4 linked regions of the Homo sapiens genome follow. The protein of the gene in region 2 purifies or fractionates together with the protein of the main gene of each other region. This does not show direct contact. Each region holds a gene or a part of one and is shown on either strand. Other genes may lie near its edges.

Region 1 (7,913 bases), on a different chromosome or scaffold from region 2:
GATTCAGAGAGCGGGTCATATAGGCATCAGCTGATTGAGGTCTTCTCATTGGGGATGATGGATAGGGAGAGAGTTTGCTGATAAGAGGAGTCAAAAGATCAGCATATGCAGCTTTTGTAGGTTTCAGAAGTTTGTCAACATGAATATTAAGCATTTTCTGTTCAAAAGCACAAGAGAAGACAGAAGATGGAAGATTCTGAAGCCATGACAGTAAACTCAGATCCAAATCATCACAACCATTACCACATAAGAGGTCGATGCCAAGAAGCACTTCGCTTTCTGTAATTTCTTCTCCAGTTGCTTTACTCTGACAAAATTCTACACAGCATTCATAAAGCAGGCCTTTCATTACAAGCTGAAATAAACGATTGTTACTAGCCTTAAAACCAGCTTCACTTAGCTTCCTATCAGCAGGGATGAATTCTGCAACCATGACACAAGCCTCTTCAAAACAGTGAACTCGTGCGGTGCTGGGATTCCAGTCCTTAAACTCGGCATGATTGGTCAGACGAGGCAAAGTCAAAAGCAAACAGAGCTTACTATAGTCATCTTTAGAAGGACAGTATTCTTCTAGAGCATGTAAACATTGCACAGCTTCTTGCATGGTAAATTCCAGCTGTAAGAAAAATATAAATGATCAAATAATCACTATAAAAAACATGCTATGAAATATGAAAACGACAAGAGTACAAAGAATAAATTATATTGCCACAGAATACTCATATAATTTGTAGGATATGCAACAGCTTTCAAGATAGGAACATAATGTTTTCACAACTAAAATAAAAATAATAAACTTGGTTTATTAGTACATTAAACTTTTATCTATAAAAACACTGTTCTATTATAATTCAGGCATAAGACAGGATCTCACTCTGCTGCCCACGCTGGAGTGCAGGGGTTATTCATACACACAAATATAGTGCACTACAGCCTTGAACTCTTGGGCTCAAGTGATCCCCAGCCTCTAAAGTAGCTGGGACCACAGGTGTGCCACACTGTGCCCAGCTCTCAAATATATAATTTTTTAACGGTAAGAATTTTTTTTCTAGAAATGAAAATTGAAGCATGCCAATGTTCAATTGTTTATAAACTTTGCTATTATTCCAGCTTACCCAAAAGGCAAAAGAGCCACTCTGTTAGTCCAAACTTACCTTAGAGCAAAATTGTGTGGAGATAGAAAGTCAAGAAAAGGGAGCCGAGCACAGTGGCTCACACCTGTAATCCCAGCACTTTGGTAGGCCAAGGTGGGCAGATCATGAGGTTCGAGACCAGCCTGGCCAACACAGTGAAACCCCGTCTCTAATAAAAATACAAAAAATTAGCCAGGCACAGTGGCGGGCACCTGTAATCCCAGCTACTTGAGAGGCTGAGGCAGGAGAATTGCTTGAACCCAGGAGGCAGAGGTTACAGTGAGCTGAGATCGCACCACTGCACTCCAGCCTGGGTGACAGTGTGAGACTCCATCTCAAAAAAAAAAAAAAAAAACAGAAAGGGAATGCCTAAAGTTGACTTACTACAAAACAATCCAGACAGACCAAAATGGAAGCTTAGCTGAGAGACAAATTATAATAATTTGTATAGTGAATATTGTCTTTGAATCATAAGCTTTTAATGATGTAAGGAACTTCAGCACTCACCTAGTCTAGCCACCATATCTTACATATGGGAAAAGTCAGGGTACACATTTACCAAGGTAATTCAGTTGATTAGTGGCAAAGACGGAATAAAAAATAGGTCTCCTAACTCATGTTCCAGTGTTCTTTTCACTTTTGAACATCATTATCTGGCAAATATATCTGTATCTGAAAGTCCCCACTGTAAAATCCTTTGGTTTTTGCCTCAGTCTGAATGTTTGTGCCTCCCTAAAATTCCTATGTTGAAATCCTAACCCCGCAAGGTAATGGTATTGGAAAAGTAGGGCCTTTGGGAGGTGACTAGGTCATAAATGCTCAGCCCTCGTGAATTAGATTAGTGCCCATATAAGAGACCCCAGAGAGCTAGCTAGCCTCTTTAACCAGCTGAAAACACAGCTAGAAGGCACCATCCATGAACCAGAGCACAGGCCCTCACCAGGCAATGAATCTGCTGGTACCTTGATCTTGGACTTTCCAGCTACCAGAACTGTAAGAAATAAACTTCTATTGTTTACTAGCCCCCTAGTTTATGATATTTTGTTATAGCAGGTCAAATGGACTAAGACACTTTACTTCAGTTAACAATTACCAGAACTTAATACAAGTTTTCTCGGTTTTAGTATTACACTGAATCTTTAAAAGTCACTTTACTAATCAAAATGAATTTAATTTCATTAAATTTAAATAGTCATGAAGACAAACATTTCAGCAAAAAAAAAACTATCTCTGGATCAAAGACAATACAGAAAAGACAGAGAAAAAGGACATAAATATAACCAACCCACTTCCGGGATTTAAAAAAAAGAAGAAATGATGAAGAGTCATCAAGTCAAACTTTATCTATTGCTGACTTACCTTAAACAAGAGAGATGCACACACTCTTCAACTAGCCAGCTATTTATATATCTTGGCTTAAACCATGGAACAAGTTTAGAAGCGCTACAGAATGAAAATACTACACCTGGAAAACACCAGATCTTGCCCCATCCCAGCTCATAAAAACTCTGAAAACTTGTGATGCTAATCCTTCGTTTTAGTGACTAAAATACTTATGACTGAAAACAAGACTAGGGCGCAAACCTTCAGGAATAAAAATCTTACATGCTGGGGCTCATCTTCTGCTGACATCGCGTTGTTAACACATAAAGCTTCTAAAAACTTCTGCTTCAGGATAATATAACGAAACCTGTGGGAAAAAAATGAAGCATTAATTTTTCCAATGTCTGATGTCAAATATACTTAGAAGTTACTATGTAAGTACTTTTGCTTTAGGAAAATTATTCAAATAATTTACTAGGCTTCTTATCACATTGAAGCCATAACTGAAGTTCAGTCACAAGTAATCACAATTTAACACTCAGAGAATGAATTTATACTTCCAATATTAATTGTAAACAACAATCCAATTTTTATGGAAGATATCAAATGTTACCTAATATTAAATCAAGTCTTATATCCAAAATGTTTTGTTTACCTTACATCCTGTTTTTTATTAAAAAAATTTTAACAAATAATAGTATATATTTATGGGGTATGTTACATTTTTAAATACATATACATTGTAGAAAGATTAAATCAAATATTTTCTTTTTAAATATGAGAAAAGTCTAATAAAAAATGGGGCTGAAAGGGTAGGAGAAAATGAACATTTCTAAAACACTACAAAATAACTAGAGACTTAAAGCTTTTTTCCTTTTCTTTTTTTTTTTTAGAGACAGAGTCTTCTGCTCTGTCACCCAAGCTGGAGTACAGTGGCATGATCACAGCTCACTACAGCCTCAAACTTTGGCCCAAGCAATCCTCCTGCCTCAGCCTCCCAAGCAGCTAGGACTACAACTGTGTGCCACAGCACCCGGCCAATTTTTAAAATTGTTTTGTAGAGACCGGGTCTCACTTTGTTGCTCAGACTGATCTCAAATTCCTGGCTTCAAGCAATTCTCCTGCCTCAGCCTCCCAAAGTGCTTGGATTACAAGTATGAGCCACTGCACCTGGTCCCAATTTAAAGCTTTTTAACAAGAGTTTTTCAGAGGGGAAGGGATAGCAAAGAGTCTACCTAACCTGTCTAAGAATCAAAAGCTTTATTGCCTGAAGCAATTTATAGAAAAAGTGTTTCCAAGTCTGGAAAGAAAAAAATAATGAACCTTCAGTCATTCTTTCAGCCACTGTTGTAGTAGCAAATTGTGTCCAATAAAACAAAATCCCTGCCTTCAAAAAGAGGGTCACCTAATAAATTATATGAAATATTCAGAGTTCAGCAAGGCCTCAAAAAAGTATGAAACCAATTGTACAAAAGAGGTGGAAAGTTAACAAAAAAAAGACATAACAACTGACTCTCAGAAGACAATCAGAAGTGTACCAGGTAAAGGCAGGAGATGGTGAAGGGATTAATATTCCAGGTAAGTAAAGAATGTACAAACGCAAAGAAATATCAAGCAGCATGGTCTGAATAGCAAATCAAAAAATAACAACAGGTTCAACTTCTGATAGTGATAGAGTAACTTATATCTGGCTAACATTTCTGCATATAACAACAATAAATCTTACATAAAATACCAAAAAAAGGTGATTTTATTTATTTGTTTGTTTATTGATTGACTGATTGAGACAGAGTCCTGCTCTGTCGCCCAGGCTGGAGTGCAGTGGCACGATCTCGGCTCACTGCAACCCCTGCCTCCCAGTTTCAAGTGATTCTCCTACCTCAGCCTCCCAAGTAGCTGGGATTACAGGCATGTGCCACCACATCCAGCCAATTTTTTTTTGTATTTTCAGTAGAGACAGGATTTCGCCATGTTGGCCAGGCTGGTCTCCAACTCCTGACCTCAAGTGATCCGCCTGCCTCGGCCTCCCAAAGTGCTGGGATTACAGGCGTGAGCCACCACGCCTGGCCTCAAAAAATGACTATTTTGAATGCATTTGAAAAGCTGGCACAACTAGAGGGAAGTCAATCCTTAAAAAAAGAGAAATTTGCCAGGTGCGTTGGCTCAAGCCTGTAATCCCAGCACTTTGGGAGGCCAAGGTGGGTGGATCACGAGGTCAGGAGCTCGAGACCAGCCTGACCAACATGGTGAAACCCCATTTCTAACAATACAAAAATTAGCTAGGCACAGTGGTGCATGCCTGTAGTCCCAGCTGCTCGGGAGGCTGAGGCAGGAGAATCGCTTGAACCTGGGAAGCAGAGGTTGCAGTGAGCCAAGATCGCACCACTGCATTCCAGCCTGGGTGACAGAGTGAGACTCCATCTCAAAAAAAAAAAAAAAAAACCCAGAAATTTAAGGGGTTATATTCAACAGCATAAGGCTTTCCAGCTGAGGGCACTCCCCAGTTCACACAGTGTGAGCTAGAACTCAAACAGAAGGCTGTAGCTTGAAAAGTCTGGTACTGACTGAACAAAGTGGCTCATACTTGTAATCCTAGCACTTTGAGAGGCCAAGGCAAGAGGATTATTTGAGCCCAGAAGTTCGAGACCAGCCTGGGCAACAAAGTCAGACCTGGTCTCTACAAAAAATTTAAAAATTAGCCTAGCGGGGTGGCACACGCCTGCAGTCCCAGCCACACAGGAGTCTGAAGCAGGCAAATCACTTGAGCCCAGGAGGTAAGGCTACAGTGAGCTGTGTTCACACCACTGCACTCCAGCCTGGGCAACAGAATGAGACCCTGTCTCAAAAAAAAAGTTTGGTACTGCCAGAGCAGCTAAAAAATGAGAGGAAGATCCAAAAAAAGGACGACGTCACAGTAGGAAACATACCAAAATCTACTGTATAAACTTAGGTACCCATATCCCTGGCTATCCCCTAAACTGTGAAGATGCAAGGGAGACTCCAAGGAGCCTGGAGAAAACAGATGAAAGGCCAAAGAACTGAGCAGAGATTTCGGGACAAATCTCTGGTATCCACAAGAGGGGAGAAAGAGTTTGCATTTTGAGGCTACCTAAGTTAAATAACTGCCTGTATGAAAATCAAACTTTTTATGTAGGAAGAGAACAGAATTCAGAGCCTCAAGAGTGAAGCTGAAATGTGCAGATTACATTTACAAAATAATTAGATATAGTTAAAAAAAAAAACAAAAAGTGACTCCCAGTTAGGAGAAAAGGCAATCATTAGAAACTGAGCCTGATATAAGCAAGCACAAGTCCAAATTACCAAACAAGGACTACACTAGCAAACAAGCAGCTACTCTCAGTATGTTGAAGGACCTAAAGAAAAATATAATCATAATGAATGAACAGATGGAAAAATCTTACAAAAAAATTATACGAATTTGAAAATGAAAAGCACAATATTCAAAATGAAAAATTCACTGTTGAATTTGAAGCTGCAGTGCCACATACATGCCACTGCACATCAGCCTGGTGGTAGAACAAGAACCTGTTTTTAAAAATTCACAATTTATCAACAGATTGCTAATAGCAAAAGAAAGGGTCAGTGAACATTAAATCAACTTAAAATAATCCAAATGAACACAAGGGAAGCCTGGGCAACATGGTGAAACCCTAACTCTAAAAAAAATACAAAATTAGCTAGGCTGATGGTACACGCCTGTATAGTCCCAGCTACTTGAGAGGCTGAAGTGGGAGGATTGCTTGAGCCCAGGAGACCAAGGCTGCAGTGAGCTGTGATCATGCCACCACACTCCAGCTTGGGTGACAGAGAGAGATCAATTTGTTTACTCTCTGTTCAAGGCCAGTGGAGAAAGAAAAATGAAAATGAAAATTTTTGTTCATTGTTTTGCTAAGCTTCTACCAATGATGAGACACTAAAAACTTTAGATAAAATCTTACCTTTTTTTGTCAAATTTTTCCATACATTCTAGAGGCTGAATGAACTGAAGAACTTCATCCCATTGACCATCAAGTATTAGCTGCCTAAATAAAAAATTTAAAAAAACCAGCATGTCACCAAATTCAGGTTATACTAATTAAAAGCAGAACAGATGACAAAACAGCATTCAAACTTCATAAAGCACACAATGAGATTAACATTTTATTTGATTCCTCAAATAAATTTTTCATAATTTTTTTTTTTTTTGAGACAGAGTGTCGCTCTGTTGCCCAGGCTGGAGTGCAATGGCACAATCTCGGCTCACTGCACCCTCTGACTCCTGTGTTCAAGCGATTCTCCTGCCTCAGACACCCGAGAAGCTGGGACTATAGGCTCGCACCACTAAGCCCCACTAATTCTTTTCTATTTTTAGTAGATACAGGGTTTCACCATGTTGGCCAGGCTGGTCTCAAGCTCCTGACCTCAGGTGATCCACCCACCTCAGCCTCTCAAAGTGCTGGGATTACAAGCGTGAGTCACCTCACCTGGCCTAAATTTTTCATAACTTATTTGTAACAACATACACTGTATGAGAAGAATTTGTGAATCTGCAACCACTCATACTAACTATATATATGTGGGTTTTGACCTATGTAAAAACATTGGACATGCCAGGCGTGGTGGCTCACACCTGTAATCCCAGCACTTTGGGAGGCCAAGGTGGGCAGATCACCTGAGGTCAGGAGTTTGAGACCACCCTGCCCAACATGGCGAAACCCCGTCTCTACTAAAAGTACGAAAATTAGCTGGCCGTGGTGGCGGGCGCCCGTAATCCCAGCTACTGGCAGGAGAAGCTTGAACCTGGGCGGCAGAGGTTGCAGTGAGCCAAGATCACGCCACTGCACTCTAGCCTGGGCAACAAAAGAGAGACTCTGTCTCAAAAAAAAAAAAAAAATGGACTAAGCTTTAAAGTTCCTATATTTCCATATTCATCTTACAGTTTTAAAGCTATTATATATTATTTTAAGAACAAGTGGCTGGGCGCAGTGGCTCATGTCTGTGGTCCCAGCACTTTAGGAAGCTAAGGTAAGCAATTCACTCGAGCTCAGGAGTTCGAAACCAGCCTGGGAAACATGGCGAAACCCTGGCTCTACAAAAAATACAAAAATTAGCCAGGCATGGTTGTGCATGCCTGTGGTCCCAGCTACTCGGGAGGCTGAGGTGGGAGGATCACTTGAGCCCAGATGTCAAGGCTGCAGTGAGCTGAGATTGTGCCACTGCACTCCAGCCTGGGCAACAGAGTGAGACCCTGTCTCAAAAAAACACACACAAAAAAGAAAGAACAGGTGATCATTTGAGCCCAGCAGTTCAAGACTAGCCTGGGCAACATGCAAAACCCCATCTCTACAAAAAATTTAAAAATTAGCTGGGCATGGTGGTACATGCCTGTAGTCCCAGCTATTCAGAAGGCTGAGGTGGGATAATCGCTTGAGTCAAGAAGGTCATGGCTGCAGTGAC
Region 2 (7,913 bases):
CGCCTGGCCTAATTTTTGTATTTTTAGTAGAGACAGGGTTTCACCATGTTGGCCAGGCTAGTTTTGAACTCCTGACCTCAGGTGATCCACCCACCTCGGCCTCCCAAAGTGCTGGGATTACAGGTGTGAGCCCCCACACCCGGCCTTATTTTTAAGTTTAAAAACAATTTTTTTTGAGACAGGGCCTGGCTCCATTGCCCAGGCTGGAGTGCAGTGGTGTGGTGATGGCTCAATGCAGCGTCAACCTTACGGGCTCAAGTGATTCTTGTACCTGGGCCTCCCAAGTAGCTGGGACCACAGGTGTGAGCCACCATGCCTGCATTTTTTCTTTTTCTTTTGAGGCAGGGGTCTCACTCTGTCACCCAGGCTTGAGTGCAGTGGCGCAGTCTCAGCTCACTGCAGCCTTATCTCCTAGGCTCAAGAGATCCTCCCAACTCAGCCTCCCAAGTAGATGGGAACACAGGCAGGCACCACCATGCCCAGCTAGTTTTTTGTATTTTTAATTGAGACAGGATTTCGCCCTGTTGCTCAGATTGGTCTCCTGGGCTCAAGTGATCCACTCGCTTCAGCCTCCCAAAGTGCTGGGATTGCAAGTGTGAGCCACCGTGCCTAATTTTTTTTTTTTTTTGAGAATTGCTTGAACCCGGGAGGTGGAGGTTGCAGTGAGCCGAGATCGCACCACTGCACTCCAGCTTAGGCAACAGAGTGAGACCCTGTTTCAAAAAAAAAAAAAAAAAAAGAATCCTGTGGAGCACCATTATAAAGATGTTTGTGGCCGGGTATTGTGGCTCACGCCTGTAATCCCAACACTTTGGGAGGCCGAGGTGGGCAGATCACTTGAGGTCAGGAGTTCAAGACCACCCTGGCCAACATGGTGAAACCCCGTCTCTACTAAAAATACAAAACAATTATCTGTGCATGGTGGCGGGAACCTGTAATCCCAGCTACTCAGGAGGCTGAGGCAGGAGAATCACTTGAACCCAGGAGGCGGAGGCTGCAGTGAGCCAAGATCACGTCACTTGCACTCCAGCCTGGGAGACACAGCGGGACTCTGTCTCAAAAAATAAATAAGTAGGCCGGGCGCGGTGGCTCACGCCTGTAATCCCAGCACTTTGGGAGGCTGAGGCAGGCAGATCACGAGGTCAGGAGATCGAGACCATCCTGGCTAACACGGTGAAACCCCATCTCTACTAAAAATACAAAAAAATTAGCCAGGCGTGGTGGTGGGCACCTATAGTCCCAGCTACTCGGGAGGCTGAGGCAGGAGAATGGTGTGAACTCAGGAGGTGGAGCTTGCAGTGAGCCAAGATCGTGCCACAAAGCACTCCAGCCTGGGTGACAAAGTGAGACTCCGTCTCAAAAAATAAATACATAAATAAATAAATAAACAAACACATAAGTAAATAAAAGTAAAGACGGTCAAGACCCTTTTCAGGATGGGAAAACTGAGGCCAGATAGGCTAAGTTAGTGGCCCAATCACACACACGGCATGTAAGGAAGAGGTGGGGGCAGGAAACAGATGCAATGTGGGGTTGAAGGCAGGACAGAGCAGCAGAAAGATAAGGAGGGAAGCTGCTGGCTGGGTGTGGCATGGCAGGGCCTGCTCACCAGAGAGGCTCTTGGCGCAGTTCTTGTCCCTGCGGAGGTCGTGATCCTGGTCCCAAGTGGAGAAGGGTACGGAGAGGCCGCTGGGTGGGACGGTGGTGGCGCCCAGCTGGCCGGCCACGGGTGCAGTGAGCTGCAGGCTATAGGCCGTGTCCTCGCCACCCAGGTGCACGGAGAACTGCAGCAACTCGGCGTTGCCATCCCAGTCCCGCAGCTGCACGGCCAGGCGGCTGTTGCGGTCCCCCGTGATGCTATGCACCTTCTCCAGACCCAGCCAGAACTCGCCTGGAGTGGGAGAGGCCACTCCATGAGGCAGGGCCACTTCTGAGGGTCCCTCTTCCTCCCCTGCCTCTGTCCCCACTAGAAACACCTACCGTGGGGATCCCCAAACCCCGCCTTGTAGGCTTCCCAGGGCCGGTTGAAGTCCACTGAGCCATCGTGGCGCCTCTGAATTACTGTCCAGCCTCCATCTGCCCAGAAAGGTACAAGGTCACCAGGAAGTCCCTCTTCACAGACGACCCCACTCCCTCATCTGGCTGCCAAGCACCAAACCCCCTCCAAACCCAGGAAGACAGCAGCTCCCTCACTCATCCCTGGAGGACTCGAGGAGGGTGGGTCAGAGGGAGGAATATTATGGGCTGGCCTTGGGAAGATCTTTGTCCCAAGAACCCAGCAGGGACTGAGTGTGGGAGGGAGTAGGCAGTGGAAATCTGCAAAGCCTCTCTGGGCCAGCTGAACTGGGTAAAACCCCGTGTTGTAACCTCTTGTAATGGAAAGGACTTCTCAGTGGAAAAAAAAGCTTTCTTTTTTTTTTTTTTTTTTTTTAGAGATGGAGTCTCACTCTGTTGCCCAGGCTGGATCGCAGTGCCGCAATCTCAGCTCACTGCAACCTCTGCCTTCGGGGCTCAAGCGATTCTTGTGCTTCAGCCCCACAAGCAGCTGGAATCACAGGCACGCCCGGCTAATGTTTATGTTGGTAGAGATAGGGTTTCACCATGTTGGCCAGGCTGGTCTTGAACTTCTGACCTCAAGTGATTTGCCCGCCTCAGCCTCCCAAAGTGCTGGCATTTCAGGTGTAAGCCACCGTGCTCAGCCTTTGTTTTTTTTTAGAAACGAGGTTTTGTTGTGTTGCCCAGGTTGGAGTGCGGTGGCTATTCACAGGTGTGATCACGGCTCACGGCAGCCTTTAACTCCTGGGCTGAAGTGACCCTCCTGCCTTGGCCTCCCGAGTAGCTGGGACTACAGGCATGTGCCACCATGCCCAGCAAGGGCTGAATTTTATTTTATTTTATTTTATTTTCTCTTTTTTATTTTTTTGATGGGGGGACGGAGTCTCGCTCTGTCGCCCAGGCTGGAGTGCGGTGGCGTCATCTCAGCTCACTGCAACCTCTGCCTCCCAGGTTCAAGAGATTCTCCTGCCTCAGCCACCTGAGTAGCTGGGATTACAGGTGCACACCACCATGCCCGGCTAATTTTTGTATTTTTAGTAGAGACGGGGTTTCACCATGTTGGTCAGGCTGGTCTCGAACTCCTGACCTCGTGATCTGTCTGCCTCAACCTCCCAAAGTGCTGGGATTACAGGTGTGAGCCACTGCACTTGGCCTTTTTTTTTACTTTTACAAAATTTTTTGTAAAGATGAGCTCTCACTATGTTGTCCAGGCTGGTCTCGAACTTCTGGGCTCAAGTGATCCTCATGATAGGCCTCCCAAAGTGTCGGGATTACAGATATGAGCCACTACACCCAGACAAGGGCTGCATTTTAAAGAAAAGAGGCCAGGAGCAGTGGCTAATGCCTATAATCCCAGCATTTTGGGAGGCCAAAGTCGGCAAATCATTTGAGGTCAGGAGTTTGAGACCAGCCAGACCAACATGGTGAAACCCAGTCTCTACTAAAAATACAAAAATTAGCTGGGTGTGGTTGCTCGCACCTGTAGTCTCAGCTACTGGGGAGGCTGACGCTGGAGAATTGCTTGAACCCGGGAGGCGGAGGTTTCAGTGAGCTGAGATCGTGGCATTGCACTCCAGCTCCAAGAGCAAAACTCCATCTCAAAAAAAAAAAAAAAAAAAAAGACCAGCTTGGGCAACATAGCAAGACCCTGCCTTTAATTTTTTTGTTTTGTTTTGTTTTCAATTTAAAGAAAGACAACAGGGCCTATGGGGAGAGGGGCCCCTGGTGGACTAACACACCCTACCTGAGGTCATCTTGCAGTTCACCAAAAATGGCGGAGACCCCTGAGGCTGGATTTCAAATAGTCCACTCTGCCTCTCCCCAACCTGGAACAGCTCCTGGCAATCCCTGGGCAGCCCTGAAGGGAGATAAAGTGGAGACTTGAAACAGGAGGGCAGCCCCTGGGGGGGGTCTCAGGAGCCAGGCATATCTGGGGGCTTAACAGTGGATGACCAGGGAAGTAAAAGGCAAATCTTATCTCATGACCACCTCTCTGCCATCTGCCTAACCTCTTCCATGGCTCCCTATGTCCTTCCTCAGCATGGTCCACAAGGCACCTGGAGGACCAGCCCCCGTGCCCATCCTCCTCCTGCCATGCTGTACCCACACCCTCTCTGGCACACAGGCTTTCTTCCCACCCTTGTACCACACACCGTCCTGCCACAGGGACTTTGCACATGCTGTTCCCCCTGCCTGGGACTCTCTTTTTTTGTTTTGTTTTTTGATACGGAGTCTCGCTCTGTCGCCAGGCTGGAGTGCAGTGGCGCAATCTTGGCTCACTGCAACCTCCGCCTCCCAGGTTCAAGCAATTCTGCCGCAGCCTCCGGAGCAGCTGGGACTACAGGCATGTGCCACCACGCCCGACTAGTTTTTGCATTATTTGTAGAGACGGGGGTTTCACCATGTTGGCCAGACTGGTCTCGATCTCCTGACCTCGTGATCCGCCAGCCTTGGCCTCCCAAAGTGCTGGGATTACAGGTGTGAACCACTGCGCCCGGCGGGACTCTCTTTCCTCACTTCTCTCTCTGGGTCCCAGCTTCTGGAAGGACACCCTGCCTTGCCTCACCCCCAGACCAGGCCAGAACACCCCAAATGGGAATTGAGCAAGGACTTCCCACTCCTGGACACTGAGGTCATCTAATGGTCTCTCCTCTGACTCAATGGAGGCTCCATGAGGCTGGGGACAAGGAGCAGCTCTGCCCACAGCCTGGCACCAGCATCCACGCAGGCCCCAGCGCATAGCAGCTGCTCAATAAAGACTTGAGGAATGGGCCGGGCGCAGTGGTTCATGCCTGTAATCCAGCACTTTGGGAGGCGGGCGGATCGGTCAGGAGTTTGAGACCAGCCTGGTCAACATGGCCAAACCCCATCTCTAGTAAAACATACAAAGATTAGCTGGGTGTGATGGTGGACGCCAGTAATCCCAGCTCCTTAGGAGGCAGAGGCAGGAGAATCACTTGAACCCGGGAGGCAGAGGTTGCAGTCAGCTGAGGTTGAACCATTGCACTCCAACCTGGGTGACAGAGTGAGACTCTGTCTCAAAAAAAAAAAAGACTTGATAAATGAATAAAAATTAGCTGGGCGTGGTGGCGGTAGGCGCCTATAATCCCATCTACTTGAGAGGCTGAGGCAGGAGAATCACTTGAACCCAGTGGGAGGCAGAGGTTGCAGTGAGCTGAGATTGCGCCACTGCACTCCAGCCTGGACAACAGAGCGAGACTCCGTCTCAAAAAGCAAACAAAACAGTCTTGACAAATGAATGAATGAATGAATGAATGAGGCAGCAGGTCCAGAACGGGAAGAACTGTGCTGAGCAGGAGCATCTCAGAGGCTCTGCCTGGGGTCCCAGCTCCTAGAGGGAGAGGAGGCAGGGTTGAGGAAAGAAAGAGGGAGGGAGGAGGGGAGGATGGCGTTGAGCACGTCTGGAGGCTCAGACGCTCCAGACTGGGAGGAACCGCCCCCAGCCCAGCCGGAAAAGTAGGGGAAAGGTCGAAATGAGTCTGCACGGTGGGGGTGGGGGCGGGCCCAGAGTGACCAGGAAGACGCTTTCCGGCCCCTCAGGCATCTCCCCTTTCCCCTACTTTCCTCCCATCCAGTAAGGATGGGCACGCGGCCAAACCACCAGTGTGGCTTCCATGAATGCCAGCTGTTCGCCTTCCCAGCTCTGAACTTTCTCCTACTTGGCGGGCCTGAGCCAAGAGTCTGGGAGTCCCGAACCCACAGAACCCCTGCCCCCTTCCACCGCATTTCCCAGCCAGGACTTGTGCCTTCCCCCGTCACCCTCCAGAAGCCCCTCATCCTGGGATGGTGGCTTTGGGAGGGTGGACAGGACCCTGACCACGCTGAGATGCTAGCCTGGCGGGGTTGGGGGCGGGCAGCACGGAGGTGGGAAGGAGCGGGAGCTTGGGGAGGAGAGAACCCTCAGGTCTACAGTGCTGGAAGCCTGCCACTGACCCTAGGGTGTGAGAGGGGGATCCAAACTTTCACCCAGTTGGCTGTGGACAGCCACAGATGCAGGGAAGGATGAGGACCACAGAGAAACCGTGTGGGGCCGTGAACTTAGAGAACCGCGAGTCTGCATCGGACACACGTGGACATGCTGTGGTTCGAGATGAACGGAGATTTGGGAATAAAGCACCTACAACTTGTGGTGGCAGCAAAAGCCCACTTTCTGCGGTGGGGAGGGGGCCGGCGGGGGCGGGGAGGGAGGAGGAGAACAAGAGAGGAAGGAGGAAGAGGGGTCAGGGACCTGGAGCATTGGATTTGTAAGATACAAGAGTGTTTCTGGTCTGGGAGCTGGGGGTTCCCAGCCCTAATTCCCACATACCCCAAGACATTGTGGAGGGCCCAAATCTACAAACACTACTACCTGGCACCCCCTCCTCCATGACACCCTCCCCTAGAAGGTTCTAACCTTCAGGATGGCACCCCGAACCCCATTTCTACCTTCTCCAGCACCCCTGCAGCTCAAGTCCCTCAAGACCTCTTTCTCCACCTCTGTTCCAATCAGTGATCAGCAGGGCTTCAGGGACAGCCCACTGGCTTGCAGAGGAGAAGGGTTGGGTGGCCTGGCTGGGCCAGGTCAGGGCTGAGGAAGGAGGTGCTCCCATCAGCTTTGACCCAGAGACTGGTGAGCCCTCAGGGACTCCAGGCCAGGACATCTTCTCCTTAAGGTGGACCTGACAAGGAGAGGACCAGCAATGGCAAGTGGCGGGGTAGGGGTGGCCACCGGAGAGCATCGAGGGGCAGACACTCACGGTGCAGGCGGCTGACATTGTGAGCCGGGTCAACTGGCTGGGCCATCTCGGGCAGCCTCTTTCTTCGGGCAGGCTTGGCCACCTCATGGTCTAGGTGCTTGTGGTCCAGGAGGCCAAACTAGGATGGGACGGGAGGAGGGTGTCAGGTCCTGCCTGGCCCCACGTCCCCAGCCACACGTCCAGTTCTCACCACCTCCCTCTCAACCTGGGGTCCAGCTATCAGAGGGACCTTTTCTCCCTTGATCCTAGGGTTACCTGGCTTTGCAGATGCTGAATTCGCAGGTGCTGCTTCTCCAGGTGCCGCTGCTGCTGGGCCACCTTGTGGAAGAGTTGCTGGATCCTGCTGTTCTGAGCCTTGAGTTGTGTCTGGGGAGGGGTGAAAACCTTGGTGAGGACCCAGCTTGCCTACCCCAACCTCTTAATTCATCCACTCATCCATCCTTCCAAATCTCCATCCGCTGAGGCCAGGCAAGGGAGTCTTTCTTTTTTCTTTTTTTTCCCAATGACGGGGTCTCGTTCTCTCGCCCAGGCTGGAGTGCAGTGGTGCTGTCACAGCTCACTGCAGCCTCCAACTCCTGGGGTCAGGCGATCCTCCTGTTTTCAGCCTCCTGTGTAGCTGGGACTACAGTCATGCAGCTCTATGCCTGGCTTATTTTTTATTTTTTCAGACAGAGTCTCGCTCTGTCACCCAGGTTGGAGTGCAGTGGCGCAATCTTGGCTCACTGCAACCTCTGCCTCCCAGACTCAAGTGATTCTTGTGTCTCAGCCTCCCAAGTAGCTGCCACCACACCTGGCTAATTTTTGTATTTGTATTTTATTTTATTTATTATTATTATTATTTTGAGATGGAGTCGAGCTCTGTCGCCCAGGCTGGAGTGCAATGGCATGATCCCGGCTCACTGCAACCTCCGCCTCCCGGGTTCAAGAGGTTCTCCTGCCTCAGCCTCCCCAGTAGCTGGGATTACAGGCGCCCACCACCACACCCAGCTAATTTTTGTATTTTTAGTAGAGACGGGGTTTCACTGTGTTGGTCAGGCTGGTCTTGAACTCCTGACCTCAGGTGATCCACTGGCCTCGCCCTCCCAAAGTGCTGGGACTACA
Region 3 (7,913 bases), on a different chromosome or scaffold from region 2:
GCTACTGTGGCCTCCAAAGGTACTGCTGGGAGATCTGGGATCAATACTCATCATTCACCACCCCCATACACCATCTTCACATACCTCAAGTTGAGGAAATAGATGCATTTCCCTAGAATGCATCAGCAATCCTCACAACATACTATTAAAATTCAGACTCAGATTTCTGCATATTGTGGAGGTGGAACTGAGGCATTCAAGAGCGCCCTTGCTGAAAGTGTCTGAGCAGTAGCTTAAGGGGTGAGGGCTGCAGGATCAGAAGACCTCCTTTAGGAAGCATGGGTTTAAAATGTTCTAGAAACTCAGGCAAATGCCATTAGAGTTCCCCTTTTAGGCAAACCACCATTCCAAGAAACAACAGTGAAAGTGTTTGTCGTGAGAAGGTTGAAGTGACACTTGCCCACTGTTGGATCTCCATCAGAAACCAAAATGATCAGCGAGACGGAGTTGGGGTCTAACAGTCCCAAGTTATTGGCTTCATTCAAAATGAAGATTGCCCGTAGGAGTGCTTCGTTGATGTTTGTGCCTGTTGAAGTAGCATAATGAAACGTTGGGTATGCGTTCTCGCCACACGCAGAAAATCCCATTCTGGATTCAGACTCATATGTCGGCTGATCACTTATCCATCACTTATTCCATGCCAAAATCATTTCATTGCTTTCTGAGTGACACAAACTGTGCTCAAGCTGGTGGTCCCCCAGTGCAGTGAAATATTCACTTTGAAATAAACTATCCCCTTAGAGATGAACTAGCCCTTTCAAAGCACAGACTGTTAGCTTGTTAAACACCAGATTAAAGTATCCAAATCAGCCTTGCCAAGATACTCTGAAGATAGTAACATTTTATGCTTTATGCAGGCAATAAAGAAGGCCAGTGTCACTGAACCTTTTTCTGAGAGACATTAAAACGGTTCAAAGCTTATGTGGGCTGTATTACAAATTCTACTTTCACTACAAACTTAGCATTCATCCATTACCAATAAATGTATTATTTAAGATAGGCCCTCGAATGCTGGGGAAAGACCACTGTGATGGGAATAATGCTTCTTAAGTGAATCATGATTTGAACCCAGAGGAAGTGTCTCCTTGGGATTTAGCCCAACACACTCACCTCCACTGGGCTGGATTTTCTCAATATACCTCTTGGCATCTGCAACCTGTGTTTTTGTAGCTGAAATTAAATCATTTCTCCAAGTTCGAATGTTCTGGTTGAAATCAATCACAGAGAAATGGTCTTCTGCTCTGAGGTCATCCAATATGGTCTTCATTGCTTCCACAGTCTATTTCAATAGAGAATAAAGACAGGTCCCATTACAGAAAATCTGAGCCTCAGAGGAACTAGGAAGACCAATCATTGATCCTGGTCATCTTTCAAGTTCTTCTCAAGCTAAACTTCTTCCAGAAAACCTCTTGAGCCCACCTCAGTCAATGCAGACCTGCCCCTTATTTATTCTGGGCATGTACTGTTGGCTTTTTGATAATTTTACTATCTATTTTGCTATGCACAACCAGTTTGACTAGTCTTTATGTTAAGGATCACAAACTTCGAGTGCCACCTTTATGATGCCTGAAAATAAAATACATTTCTCAAGTCCATCTACTCACCCAGTCTCTTAAACTATTTCCTCATCTTTCTCTTTAAACCACCACCATCACCCTCTTTCTCTAGCTTACGTGTGATGATTTTGATTCCAACTCCACTGAGAAACTGCAGCAGACAGAAGAACATTCCCACAGACTCCCACTACCATAAAATCCCAACCATCAATATTTGTACCCATACATTTTTCTTTCCTACCTGATAATAAAGAACAACTAGCAGTATTTCTACCTAATGCAAACCCATCTATTCATGAACTATTTCATTCCCTCTCTTTGACTAAAGATCATGGCTCCAGCAATTGTCCTTTGCCTCTTCAATTTCCCTATTCTATTGGTACATTTCCATCAACAAAAACATGTTATTTCTCACCCTTCTACAAACCTCATGTGCATCCACTTTCTTCATTTCTCAGCTTTCTTCTGCAATAAAATTCCTTGAGGAATTGTCTAAACACACTGTCTCCAAATCTTCTCTTCCTATTCTCTCATAAGCCCAATCCTTTCGGGTTTTCATCCCTGTCACTCTACTGAAACTGCCCTTGTCAAGGTCACCAATGATGCTAATGTCACTAAATCCAAAGGTCCATCTTCATTTCTCATGCACCGGCAAGTGCTCTCATCTCCCTCCTGAACACAAATTCCTCAATTGTCTTCCAGGGCCTCATTCTCTCTTGATTTTTCTCCCCCACTTACTAATTGTTTTTATTAGTCTCTATCACCAATTATCCTCTTCTTCCCAAATTCCCAATATTGGAATGCTCTGTTGTCTGATCTTGGCTCCCTTGTCCATCTACTCCTCGGCATTCTCACCTAGTCCCAATGCTGACAGTACCTTCTATATGCTGGGGAGTCCTAACTGTGTGTCTCCACATCTCACTTTTGAACACCACGCTTCCATGGCCAACGTGGGTACTTAATAGAAATCTCAGACTTTGCATCCAAAACCAAACTGGGACATTCCCTGCAATGTCTGATTACATTTCTGTCTTTGTCAACTCATGGATGGCCACTTCATCCTTCTAGTCACTCAGGCTAAGTCCTGGGGCATCTTTCACTTCTCTTTTCTTCCCTTGCCTCACAGCTAGCCCTTCAGGATATACTGTTTACTCTACCTTCAAAACAGATTCCAGAATCCAGCTCTGATCATGACTGCACAGGTGTTCCATGAGCCACCTTGCCTCTCACTTCTCAGATCTCATCTCCCACTGCCCCTCTCTACTGGCATCTCTCTCTGTTCTTTGCACACTTTCGACTTAGAACTGTTGCATGAGCTGTTCATTGCATTTAATTCCCTTAGATATCTGCACAACTCTCCCTTCACCTTCTCAGGGTCTCCTCAGAGGTCTTCTCCAGGAAACCACCTATTTAGATGACAAGCCTATTTAAAATTGCATACCCCTGCAATTGCCACTCTTGGTTTTTAACATATGCTTCTTTTATTTTTTAAAAAAACTTTTATCAAAATGCTGCCATTGAACGTACTTGTACATTTGTACTTGCATGTGTATTGTTTATTCTCTGTCCCCTATCCCTCAGATGTAAGTTTCATAAGCACACAGAGGGTAGGCATCCGTTTTTTTTCTGTTTTTTGTTTGGTTTCTGTTTTTATGCTTTGGGTCTGTTTTGCTCATAGATGAACTAAGTGTATGACACATAGTAGGTGCTTCGTAAATATTTGTTAAATGAATGAGTGATGGAAGGAAGGAAGCAGTGAATAAACTGTTGTATTAGAGCAATGTTTCTCAACCAGAGGCAATTATTCCCCCCAGCGGACATTTGGCAATGTCTGACGTTATATTTGATTGTTATGATGCAGGGGAGGTTGTGCTACCAAAATTTAGCAAATAGACCATAGACCATGCTGCTAAGTATCCTGCAATGCACCAGACAGCCCTCCTACAACAAGGAATGACCCCATCCAAAATATCAATAGTCCCACTGCTGAGAAACCCTGCCTGGGAGTACAGACCCAGGCAGGCAGGGTCTGTGAAAGACAGGGTCTTCTTTTTCCTCTTCTTCGTCTTCGTCTTCTTCCTCTTCTTTTTTTTTTTTTTTTTGAGATGGAGTTTCGCTCTTGTTGCCCAGGCTGGAGTGCAATGGCGCGATCTCTGCTCGCTGCAACTCCCGCTTCCTGGGTTCAAGCAATTCTCCTGCCTCAGCCTCCCGAGTAGCTGGGATTACAGGCATGCACCACCACGCCTGGCTAATTTTGTATTTTTAGTAGAGACAGGGTTTCTCCATGTTGGTCAGGCTGGTCTCAAACTCCCAACCTCAGGTGATCCACCTGCCTTGGCCTCCCAAAGTACTGGGATTACAGGCGTGAGCCACTGTGCCTGGCTGACAGGGACTTCTTTTAGGTTCCTTACAGATCTTAGGGTAGTAGTGAACTCTTGGGTGGTCAAAAATAGTTGCCCTATGACTGGTTAGTTGGTTGTTCAACTTGGTTGAATGGATGGATGGATTGATGGGTAAGTTAAATCATTTCCTTGTTTGGTCTTTAGTATTGCATCTGTACATCTCACTTATCACTAAGTAAGCCTATATTGAGCTCTGAGCTGGAAAACATAAGATGGATAGCTGCTCTCAAGCAATTACCATATAATTAGAAATAATATGTATATATTGAATCAATAGTCATATGTGGACAATGACAAGATATTATAATAAAACATGTGGAAGAGCAAAAAGAATGTGACTGATCCTTGAAAGAAGAGGTTATATAGAGATTCTGTTTTTCAAAGAGGTGAGTTTTGAGACAGTTTTTCAAGGAAATATTGGATAGAGAGTGGAAAAGAGAAAGAGAAGGAAGAGGAAACAGGAAAGAGGAAGAAGAGAAGGAAGGGAATTTTACACTAGAGGAATGATTAGAAGACGGAGGTGTATGTCCTGTGAAATGCAATAATAGCAAAATTTTAGGAAGAGTTGACACCGGCAGTCTGTAACCACAGTCCCTGAGCTTCAGCCCTAAGCAGGGAGGAGGGATAGAATGATTGCATTTTTAGGAGGGGATCAAAGAAGATAGGGAATCCCCCCAACCACTGCAAACAAGGGGGTACTTACTTGTTTCATTTTAACTCCCCACATGGAGCCACTCACATCGATGACAAAGAGGATGTTTTTGGGAATTGGGTCCAGGTTGTCAGGAGCAAAGAAGTGGACAAAATATCCATTAAACACCTGAAAAATAGAAGGTATTTGTGAGTCAAATCATGATTCGTGTTTAGAAGGTAGGAAGATGGGGACCTGGGGACTCAGAGAAGAGAGGGGTCTACAGGGAGGAGGAGGCGGAGCTTGATGTGCATTTGCCTCCACATTTTCCTGCCTGCTCCCCCACCTCCTCTCCTCTGAGGGTCAAGACCTTCCTAGCAGAACATTCCGCTCCACTCCACTCCACGCTGCTTCACTCCACACCGCTCCACTCCACTTGACTCCTCTCCACACCATGCCACTCCACTCCACGTCACACCACTCCACGCCACGCCACTCCACGCCATGCCAGGGCACTCCGCTCCACACCACACCACGCCACTCCACTCTACTCCACTCCACGCCACGCTGCTCCACTCCACTCCATGCCACTTCACTTCACCCCACTCCACTGCACGCCACTCCACTCCACCCGACTTCACGCCACTCCACTCCACGCCACTTCACTCCACTCCACTCCACTCCACATCACTCAGTCTTTACAGAGAGCCCCTGTTCCAGGCGCCCTGCTAACCAGCGGTGAATCAGGCAGAGCACCTCCCGTCAGGAGGCTCCCAGCCAGCAGAGGATAAGGGTAAGTGGAGGCAATGTGCAGCGCGGTGTGTTCAACACCATGATTAGGAAGTAAAGGGCTCGGCAAGAGCCCCGTGTGCATCTAACGCGCACCCAGGGGACGGTTCTCTAGGAAGCAGCATCTCCACTGGGACCTAAGGATGAGCTCAGACTCAGAAGCTCTCTTGAGAGCTGGGCCAGGTTGAGATAGTGGGGAATGGGGAAGAGAGTTCCAGACAGCGCAGCCCCAGAGATGAGAAAACATGGCATATTTGGGGCTCCATATGTGGTTCAGCAAGATGGGGCCGTAGAATCCAAGAATTCAGGGAACTAGTTGGAGAATCAGCAAGACAGATCACGAAGGACGTGTATGGGCCACTTTAGAAAATTTGGATTTTTCTTGAAGTTAATGAGAGGCTGCCCCAGCTGGACTCCTGACCATCCTCTTTGTCTTCTGCTGCAGGCTTGATGACTGGCTCACCTAATTCTCTTTCCTCTGCCCTTTGGCTGCCTCTTTCCAGGAAACTACAGCATCCAGGTACAGGGTGTGTGCTCCGCTTGCTGTCCCTAGAGAGACTCTTGGAGTTTGCGTACGTTCTAAGAGTCCTCACCTTAGTACAAAGAAAGGAAGACACACGTCTGGGACATGACTGAAGGGGAAAGGAAACTTTTCAAGAAACTTCATGATAAACCTTGGCCTTGAAATTCACCGCTGGCTCTTGATCTTTCTAGGCTGTGGATGCGCCTTCCTCCTCACCCCGTAATCTCTGTGCTTTCTTTGATTGTCTAATTGCAAAGGGCCTTGGGAGCCTATTTAAAATTCCTGTTCTGTAATTATTCCTTTGTTCTTCACATGAGGCCCAGGAATGCCCTCCTGGGACAAGAGCATGAGACCCTATTCATTTAGTTTTTAATACATAAAAGATAATGCTTAGCGGTATATTCAAAGAATATGATTTTAGTCCCTTCTCTGCAGCTAGAAACACTTGCCCTGGCAGCTAGAAACCACCCATAGGCCTGGGAGTTTGTTCAAAAAGGAGCAGCTCTTTGGCACGAGCTTGGCAGTAGAACCAGAGCCGGTGTGCACTCACCTCCAGTTCACCAGCCTTCTCTTCTCTTTTCACGTCATACAGCACCACCAGTTCCCCATCTACCGCAGTCTCCCGGCAGTTAGGGCATATTCTCTGCTGTGCTACCGTGGGCTTGAAGGAGACGTGCGCCTAGAAAGAACGGTGACATCAGAGCCTCTGCCTCTAGCCCCTTCCCAGTGCTTGGCGCTGCCCCTTCTCCAGCACACAGGGAAGAGGAGCTGCCCAATGGACGTTCTGAATCCCCGCGATATCGGTGGACCCATTACTGATGGGAAGGACATGCCAGGGCTTTTGCAGGGAGCATCTCTAGCCTGCCATGCTGTTTGCAAGGTTTCAGACCTTTTTAGAAGAAAGCCGAAGAATTTCCTTCATCCCCTGTAGAAGGGCTGACTATGTGCTTTGGAAAGAGTTTGTGAAATGTTTTAATGCTCTTAGAGGAGTTTCTCCTTACAGGAGTCATAGTTGGTTATCGCTGGTCATTGAGGCAGAGAGCTGAACATGTCTTGCTATGGTTAATGAATGAAAATCTGCCATATAGGATGTGAAAGCTGTCCTTTAGCTACTGGTTAAGCAGGTGACTGACGGGGAAATGAGACTCAAAAAGGGACAATCTCTGGTCAAAATGGAAGGAAAGCACTGGGAGTGTTGTTCTGTGTATCCTGGGGAGGCCCTAGGCTCTACTTGGGGATCCCCATTTCTTCAACAGTGTCCTCAACACCAGCCTGCTTTTCTCTTCTCCAGAGCACAGAAGGAGAACAGAACCCACAATCCAGAGGCCCTGTGAATGCCTGGCAACACACAGGGCTCAGGGTACCTTCTGTTGTCCTTTAGAAATGACCGGAACACCATCGAAATGGCCTTCAAATGTGTCGGGAACATGAAGAAATCTCAGTCCCTGTGGTTCGATAACCCACACATCTACCTAGAGATGCAAGAGAAAATTACCCAAAGCATTAAAAGTCTTTAAAGTCTTTTTAAGCAAGAAGTAAAATTACAAATAAGTCCTCTGATGCTTTTCTCCTCCGCAGGTTTCCCGGGCACGACTCCACGATCTCTCCTGCAGGATCTGCAAGTTCCTGCGATGGGATTCATCTCACCACGGAGGCTTAACCCCCTTCTGTCGACTCAGAGCTCTCCTTCTGCTGCCTCACTCCCCCAGGAGTCGACTCCCTTCCTCATTCTATTCGAGTCTTTTTATTTATAAGAGCATTTGCATTGTTAGGGAAAAAAAGAATTCCTTCTTCTTTTTCCCTCATTGTTAAATAGCACTGCATCTACTCTGTAGACCTGTCAAAAGTAGACCATTTTCCCCAAATCTTGGGTTGTTTTATTTCTTCTCTGTCTTCTTGCTTTGAACAGACCTCATCTAGGGAAATCCCCTTTGGTGATTCTTGACCAAACCACAGTCATAGCTGCCATTTTTTTCTTTTTTAAATTTAATTCTATGATTTGTTTGTTTATA
Region 4 (7,664 bases), on a different chromosome or scaffold from region 2:
TACCATTTGCTGAGCAGCTACTTGTGGCTAGGCCGTGTGCCACAAGTGCTTGATATCCATTTTCCCCTTCAATCCTTGTGACAACCTTAAGAGGTAGGGACCTTCATCGTTCCCACTGCACAGGTGGATAACAGAGACTCAGAGAGATAAAGTCATTTGCTTAAGGGACATAGCTAATAAGTGACAAAACCGGGATTCAAAACCCAGGTCTCTGAAGTCTGAATGAGGTCCATGAATTGGATCAATTTGCATTTCCTAGTTGTGATGTTGTACTATAGCGAGGCACAATGTTACCATTGCGAGAAAATGGATGGAGGGTCTATGGAACATCTGCATTATTTGTTGCTACTGCATGTCTACAATTATCTCCAATTTCTTTTAATTAAAAAAAAAAATTTAAAAACAGGTCTGCCCTGCTCCAGAAGCTGTCCTCTGAACCAGTTTTCTAGATTGGTCATATTTCCCTTTTCATGCTTGCTGCTAGGAAGCTCAGAGCAAAATGTATGCCCTCTCTCTAACAAGTGTATAGGACTTCCTGACTACACTTCTAGGTCTTTCTGTTCCTCTTGCCCTTATATCTCTTTGTCCTATTTGAAATTGCATTCATTTTGTTAAATTCTTTTCTTTTTTTGGAGATGGAGTCTTGCTCTGTCACCCAGGCTGGAGTGCAGTGGCGCAGTCTCAGTTCACTGCAAGCTCCGCCTCCCAGGTTCACGCCATTCTCCTGCCTCAGCCTCCCGAGTAGCTGGGACTACAGGCGCCCGCCACCATGCCCGGCTAATTTTTTGTATTTTTAGTAGAGATGGGGTTTCACCGTGTTAGCCAGAATGGTCTCGATCTCCTGGCCTCATGATCTGCCTGCCTTGGCCTCCCAAAGTGCTAGGATTACAGGCGTGAGCCACCATGCCTGGCCTCATCTTGTTTTACTATGTCTTTAAAACTTCTTCAACACTTACTGGAATAAAGTGGGCTTTAAAGAAATGAAGCACTGCAGTTCGCGTGGCAGAGGCTGGTCAGCATGTTATAACCAGACCATCAGCCCTCTTACTAGGCCAGCACGCTTTCGCTTTTGCATTTACAATCACATACCCCATCCCCTCCACTTGAAAAAGAATTTTGTTTTTGTCGTTATCCAAAAATCTCATCTTAAATCAACCGTCTCGTCTCCCTGTAGCTTCATTACCATCTCAGAAGCAGCAAAGGAGCCAGCAAAAGCTAAGGTACAGAAAGTCGCTTTGGAGGATGATGGTGAGTGGTTATACTTAATAGAAGCTATCATTTATTAAGCACCTAATGTGTGTCTGGAGGTGGGCGAAACAGTTTTGGTATATTCTTTTTTTTTTTTCTTTTTTTGAGATAGGAACTCTCTCTGCCACCTAGGCTGGAGTGCAGTGGAGCAATTATAGCTCAATGCAGCCTCAACCTCCCGGACCCAAGCAGTCCTCCCACCTCAGCTTCCTGAGTAGCTGGGACCACAGACACACACCACCACCCCTGGCTAATTATTTATGTTTTTTAGAGACAGGATCTCGCTATGTTGCCCAGGCTGGTCTTGAACTCCTGGCCTCAAGCCATCTGCCCACCTTAGCCTTCCAAAGTTCTGGGACTACAGGCGTGCACCACCACACCTGGCTAATTTTTGTATTTTTTTTTAGAGACAGGGTTCTGTCATGTTGCCCAGGCTGGTCTTAAACTCCTGGCCTCAAGCTATCCTCCCGCCTCAGACTACCAAAGTACTGGGGTTACAGGCATGGGCCACCTCACCATTCTTTCATCTGCTCAGCCCCTGTGGTGAGGCAGGTATTATGATTGAACCCCATGTACAGACAAGGAGACTGAGGCCCTGAGAAACGAAGTCATTTGCCTGAGGCGGCCTCGTCTGTGTCACCCTGAGCAGGAGCACTTTACTGCTGCCCTCCACAGCCTCGCCCATCTGCGTCTGTCCTGTACCAACACATTTGCCACTTTGAAGGCTGCCTTAGGTCAGGAGCTCAAGTGCTGACTTCCAGAAGCCTCTGAGGGCTTGCTGAGCTGATGTGGCTGCTGGCTCCTGCTCCAGCGCGCCCTCCACTGGCTCCATCAGGCATCAGCATGACCCTTGGCAGATGCAGAATCACTTTGTAGTTAGACGACTGATTCCTGGGTCTTTGCCTCTGGACCAGGAGCTCCTGAGGGCAGAGGCGGGGCAGCTTCAGCACCTGGCACCTGGGAGGAGGGGCTGGCATCTGGGGGTGCTGACTCTGCTCCTTTGTTTTTTTTGTTTGTTTGCTTGGTTGGGTTTTTTTGTTATTGTTTCTTTTTTAAATTTTTTTATTTTGTGTCTTCTTAAAATTTTTTTTTTGTTTCTCTTTATCTTTTCTTTCTTTCGTTTTCCTTTTTAAAATTTTTTTCTTTTTTGTTTCTTTATTTTTTATTTTTTTATGTTTCTTTTTGTTTTGTTTTGTTTTTGTTTGACTCTGCCCCATTGAATCTTAGGTTTCCGCCTTTTCTTCACATCTGTCCCTGGAGGCCGTGAGAAGGAAGAGTCTCCCCAACCCCGCCGAAAGCGACAGCCCTCCAGCTCCAGGTGAGAACTCACACCTCTCCTCACGTCCCCTCCTTTTTTCTCCTCTTCTGTCTTGGTGGGTTCCCTGGAATAGCCAAGCAGACTCCAGTCAGGACCAGGCCAAGGCAGTGGCCCTGTCAGGCAGCTGGAGAAATCATGAGCTCAGCGGGAGGGAAAGCCCTCTTGGCGGCAGCTTTGGATGTTTACTGCTTTTGAGCACCTGTCTTGGGCCAGACACCTCACTTGATCATAGTTGCCTCCTGGGACATCCCTGGGAGGCCTGGACTCTGTTAAGATCCCCGTTTTAGAGATGATACAGTCAGAGAGGTTAAGTCACTTAAGGAGGTCACAAGGCTGCTACGCCCAGAAGCCAGTATTGGAAGCCAGGTTGGCCTCACTCCCAAGCCTGAACTCACTACCTGCCTCTCTCTGCGGCCACCTTCTGGTGACCTGGACCAAGGGAGGACAGCGAGAGGCAGCTCTGGGGCTGTGTCCTGACTCCAGCTAACCCAGGGTACCCTCTCGTTGCAGCAGTGAGGACAGTGACGAGGAGTGGCGGCGGTGCCGGGAGGCAGCTGTGTCGGCGTCCGACATCCTACAGGAGTCAGCCATCCACAGCCCTGGAACAGTGGAGAAGGAGGCAAAGAAGAAAAGGAAGTTGAAAAAGAAAGCCAAGAAGGTGGCCAGTGTCGACTCGGCTGTCGCTGCCACCACCCCCACCAGCATGGCCACAGTCCAGAAGCAGAAGTCAGGTGAGCTCAACGGGGACCAGGTGTCGCTTGGGACCAAAAAGAAGAAAAAGGCAAAGAAGGCCAGCGAGACCTCTCCATTCCCACCAGCAAAGAGTGCTACAGCTATACCTGCAAACTGAACCCAGCCATGGGCACAGGGCTCAGCCAGCTCCAAGGACAAGGTGTCCCCCCCACCCTGGGGACAAGGCATTTCCAAGCCCCACCTCCCTCTCCAAGTTCAAGGACTGGGCTGGCAAACCCAGACTGCCCATGAGACCCTGATGGTGATGAAGGCTTGCTCGAGAGTTGGGCCAAAAAAGTGGCTGTAGGGTGAGAAGACCAATCAAGGCCTGCCCCTCTGTGCTCCCACGGAGGGCTGGCGGGGGCGCTGTGGTTCCAGAACATTTCATGACCTCAGGAAAAAAGGAACCTTCCAGTTATTTGAGACTAGTGGCCAAGTGGTGAAACCTCCATCTCCCTAGAACTGTCTGAGGTGGGCAGGGGAAGGGAGACCTTCCCCACCACCTCCTTAGCCTGGTGTGAGAAACAGTTTTTAGAAAATGAGAGAAGGGATCCCCAAGAGGCCAAGGCCCAGAGAAACTTTTGTTCTTCTCTCCTTAGCCCACATAGACTTCACAGAATCGTCTGAGAAAGGAGAGCTTTTTCACCCCTGGCTTTCTAGAATTTTCTTTGTCTGCATTTGTGAATATACCACACATGATGGTGTCTCTGAGCCGACCAGATTATGGAAACTCAATTGTCAGAGGACCCAAAACAAAACTTAGAGTGATTTGGATATTGCCTCTCTGTCAATGCTGAACCTTAAGACATTTTAAGTAAACATCCTCCTCCTCTCTACACCCCCAGGATTTGTGCGTTCACCCCACCCAAGACTTCAGGAAGTGTCATAGCACTCGTGGACTAGGTTTCATGGGACAAAGGCATTCTGCAAGAAGTAGAAGCTTGTGGCCGGGTGCAGTGGCTCATGCCTGTAATCCAAGCATTTTGAGAGGCCAAGGAGGTGGATCAATTGAGGCCAGGAGTTTGAGACCAGCCTGGCCAACATGGCGAGACCCCATCTCTACTAAAAATACAAAAATTAGCTGAGCATGTTGACACACGCCCGTAATCCCAGCTACTCAGGAGGCTGAGGTGGGAGAATCGCTTGAACCCAGGAGGTGCAGGTTGCAGTGAGCCGAGATTGCGCCACTGCACTCTAGCCTAAGCAATGGAGCAAGACCCTATCTCAAAAAAAAAAAAAGAAAAAGAAAAAGAAAAGAAGTAGAAGCTCATGGCCAGGGATGGTGGCTCACACCTGTAATCCCAGCACTTTGGGAGGCCGAGGCAGGTGGATCACTTGAGCCGAGTTCCAGACCAGCCTAGGCAACATGGTGAAACCTCGTCTCTATAAAAAAAAGAATACAAAAATTAGTTGGGCATGGTAGTGAGCGCCTGTGAGGCTGCTTGTGAGGCTGAGGTGGGAGGATCCCTTTAGTCCAGGAGTTCAAGGCTGCAGTGAGCTGTATAATGCCACTGCAGTCCAGCCTGGGTGACAGTGAGACCCTGTCTCCAAAACAAAATTTTTTTAAAAAGTAGAAGCTTGAGGTTAAGATGAAATCTGGCTTTGTCATTAGAGTCTCAGCAGAGCAAGAAAAGCAGAGATGTGGGGTGTGAGAGCGTGGGTGCTGGAGCCTGTCTCCTCTTCGCAGGCCTCTGGCCTGCCCCAGCCTCCCGCTACCTGCCCAAACCCCATCTGAATGATTTGTGGACAAGCAAGAAGTTTCCACCGCATTTCTCCTTGACTTTACTAAAAGTTAAATAAACGTGCCACTCGCCCCGGCTGGCTACAAGCTGCAGGGGGTGCCGGGTCACCCCAGGCCTTTTCCTGAATCCCAGGGTAGACGCGGTACACTGAAGGCCAGGTTCTCAGCAGCAGGCCCAGGGATGTGGGACCATGCTTGTCCTGGGTTCACAGGCTCCTTTGTCCCTCCTGGCAGTGCTCAGGACCTCAGACTCCTCAGGGTGGCTGCGAACTGCCCTCAGCCAGCCAGGCCCCCAGGCTTCTGAGTGTTAGTCCTGTCCACACAGGTAGCTCCTGTGCCCTGGGGTCACCTCTTTCTTCTCCTGGGCACCTCAGCTTGGCCAGTTCCCCGGCCCTGCTCAGCTGCTCGGGCCTTGCTGCCTTGTGAGCTCAGCTACTCCTGCCCCAAACAAGGGCAGGGTCTGCAGGGCGCTCGAGACAGAGGAGCTGCCCCACCAGGACCTGGACTTGGCACGGGTTGCGAGGCTCCCACAGGAGTAAGGACGACTTCCCAGCCCCGAAGTAGCCTTCCCAGTAGAGGCAGGAGGCCAGGCTGGCCTCAGAGGCATGATGCTCTTGGGAACAAATACAGGAAAGCTGGAGGTCATGGGGCCTGGGAGAGGGAATCGCTGGGGATGGGAAGCCAGGAGAGCCCTGCCTGCCTTCCCTGTTAGCTTCGGCCTCCCTGGGCTCAGGCGTTAGAGCCCCAGGCTCTGGCACAGAGTAGCCACCCAGGAAATGCCTGTGTGAGTAGGTGATGGGGTCAGTACAAATGGCATGTGGGTCACTAGCTGGAAGGAGTTGGGGCAGGAAGGAGTGGCCCGGTGGGTACATTGGTGACAGAACAAGGCCACGCTGATCCAGGGCCTCTCAGAGCTCAGCAGGTCACAGCTACACAGGCCTGTGTCCTGAGAAGTGTGGCTGCCAGAGTGGTGTAGCGGTCCCAGGGCTCTCCATAGGCCCAGGCTGGGGGTGCCCAAGTCATAGGCCGCCCCCTTCAGTTCCAAGTAAGAAGACTGTATCCCACGAAGCAGCGACAGTCCCTCCTACATCTGCCATGAACAGGCTTTGCTCCTAGCTCTCCACGACCCCCTCCTGTGCACCCCGAGCAGCCTCCACGGGTTGGGGCGCCTCAGAGCCCTCCCTTTCTGATGCATCAGAGCAGAGTGGGGAGCGAGGCACAGCTGTCCAGGAAGGGCCACGGTTGCTCGGCAGGCTCAGGTCCTCCAGGCAGGGCTGGCTGCTGCCCTCATCACCCCCCAAGCAGGCAGTACAGGCCCCAGGGCCCAGGTGCCGTGGTTACTGGGAGGAAGAGGCCATCTGGGTGGAGATGAAGGTCTCGATGACGCTGTGGTTGGATGGCAGCAGGTGGCTCTGGCCATTGCTGGAGTCTGAGCTCTGGTACAGCACCAGGCTGCTGGAGGACACTGCAGAGGCAAACAAGGCTGCTAGCCACCCACCAGGCACCCACACCCACCCCACCTGCCTGTCCCTAGGGGTACTCAGGATGGGGAGGCAGGGCCACACCTCCTGGATCACAGCAGATAACAGGAACCCCAAAGTCACACCTCTACCCTCGGTTCTTCAAAGGGAGCCTCCCAGCCAGGGTCCACGGCCGCCCATGGAGTGGCCTGAGTACATCTTAGTGTGAACACTGGAGAAGCCCCGGTGAGATGCCGAGGTAGGTAGTTGTACGTGTTGGCTTGGCTAGGCTGAGTCAAACACTAATCTAGGCGCTGCTGTGAATGCAGGTGCTTTGTAGATGTGGTTAATGCCACAATCAGTTGGCTTTGAGTGAAGGAGATTACCCTGAAAATATGGGTGGGCCTCCTACATCAGTGGAAGGCCGTAAGAGCAAAAACCGGTTTCCCAGAGAAGGAATTCTGCCTCAAGGCTGCAGAATTCACTCCCCAGAGCTGCCAGCAACAGATTTCAGGCCTGCCAGCCCCCCGCAGACACGGGCCAAGTCCTTCAAATAAATCTGTTGGTTCTGTGTTCCTGGAGAACCCTGACTGATGGCAATGGTTAAGAGAATGGGCTTTGAGGTGGGACCTGGGTTCGAGTCCTGGCCCTGCCATCTGGTAGCTGTGGGAGATGAGGCAAGTCCCTCCCCTCCTTGAGTGTCCACTTTCTCATCTGTAAAATGGGGGTGGTCATGGACACGCCTCATGGGGTGAATGCCAGGACACAGAATGGCCTCAGTGGCTGTCATGACAGCTGCCAGGGCCGGGTCCAGGAACCTTATAGAAAGGGGGCAGCTTGCAAAAAGGCAGGCTGCAAAGCCCACCCACCTGACTCCAAAGTGCCCACTCCTGACAATGGCATCATAGATTACAAACTCAGGTGACCGCCCCACCGCCAGGGGTCATTGGAGCCGATGTGAGTGGATGCAGTGAGGCCTGGTGCACTGTTATATGGGAATATGAATTTTTCCAATTTTCCAAAAGATGCCAGAAATCTGGATTTCTATGTGAAAATTCCTGATTTTGAAATGTTGGCAACAAATTCAAAGAATGTTCAACCCTGAGCCAAGCCAAACCAAACACATGCAAGAGTCGCTTCTGGCTCACAGACCTGGTCCTTATCG

The links.
Region 1: the proteins of ANGPTL4 (region 2) and WDR47 purify together in Homo sapiens (affinity purification with mass spectrometry; 2 studies listed by BioGRID and IntAct, with this or other methods). This does not show direct contact.
Region 3: the proteins of ANGPTL4 (region 2) and ITIH2 purify together in Homo sapiens (affinity purification with mass spectrometry; one large-scale study listed by BioGRID and IntAct). This does not show direct contact.
Region 4: the proteins of ANGPTL4 (region 2) and C12orf43 purify together in Homo sapiens (affinity purification with mass spectrometry; one large-scale study listed by BioGRID and IntAct). This does not show direct contact.

Annotation. Positions count from the first base shown.
Region 1 is NC_000001.11:109,011,103-109,019,015, forward strand, and holds part of WDR47 (WD repeat-containing protein 47), read right to left. Parts: intron 6,500-7,913; coding exon 6,416-6,499; intron 2,826-6,415; exon of another isoform or gene 2,824-2,825; coding exon 2,739-2,823; coding exon of another isoform or gene 2,718-2,738; intron 617-2,717; coding exon 1-616.
Region 2 is NC_000019.10:8,365,219-8,373,131, reverse strand, and holds part of ANGPTL4 (angiopoietin-related protein 4 isoform a precursor), read right to left. Parts: intron 7,179-7,913; coding exon 7,068-7,178; intron 6,931-7,067; coding exon 6,813-6,930; intron 3,914-6,812; coding exon 3,800-3,913; intron 2,077-3,799; coding exon 1,981-2,076; intron 1,892-1,980; coding exon 1,610-1,891; intron 1-1,609. UniProt on the Homo sapiens protein: Mediates inactivation of the lipoprotein lipase LPL, and thereby plays a role in the regulation of triglyceride clearance from the blood serum and in lipid metabolism. May also play a role in regulating glucose homeostasis and insulin sensitivity.
Region 3 is NC_000010.11:7,720,316-7,728,228, reverse strand, and holds part of ITIH2 (inter-alpha-trypsin inhibitor heavy chain H2 precursor), read right to left. Parts: intron 7,374-7,913; coding exon 7,266-7,373; intron 6,581-7,265; coding exon 6,452-6,580; intron 4,779-6,451; coding exon 4,662-4,778; intron 1,280-4,661; coding exon 1,111-1,279; intron 527-1,110; coding exon 401-526; intron 1-400. UniProt on the Homo sapiens protein: May act as a carrier of hyaluronan in serum or as a binding protein between hyaluronan and other matrix protein, including those on cell surfaces in tissues to regulate the localization, synthesis and degradation of hyaluronan which are essential to cells undergoing biological processes.
Region 4 is NC_000012.12:120,999,905-121,007,568, reverse strand, and holds the end of C12orf43 (protein CUSTOS), read left to right. Parts: intron 1-1,174; coding exon 1,175-1,248; intron 1,249-2,475; coding exon 2,476-2,566; intron 2,567-3,076; coding exon of another isoform or gene 3,077-3,079; coding exon 3,080-3,416; 3' UTR 3,417-6,376; coding exon of another isoform or gene 6,377-6,504; 3' UTR 6,505-7,083; downstream 7,084-7,664. Other genes in the region: HNF1A (hepatocyte nuclear factor 1-alpha), read right to left, coding at 6,377-6,504. UniProt on the Homo sapiens protein: Plays a role in the regulation of Wnt signaling pathway during early development.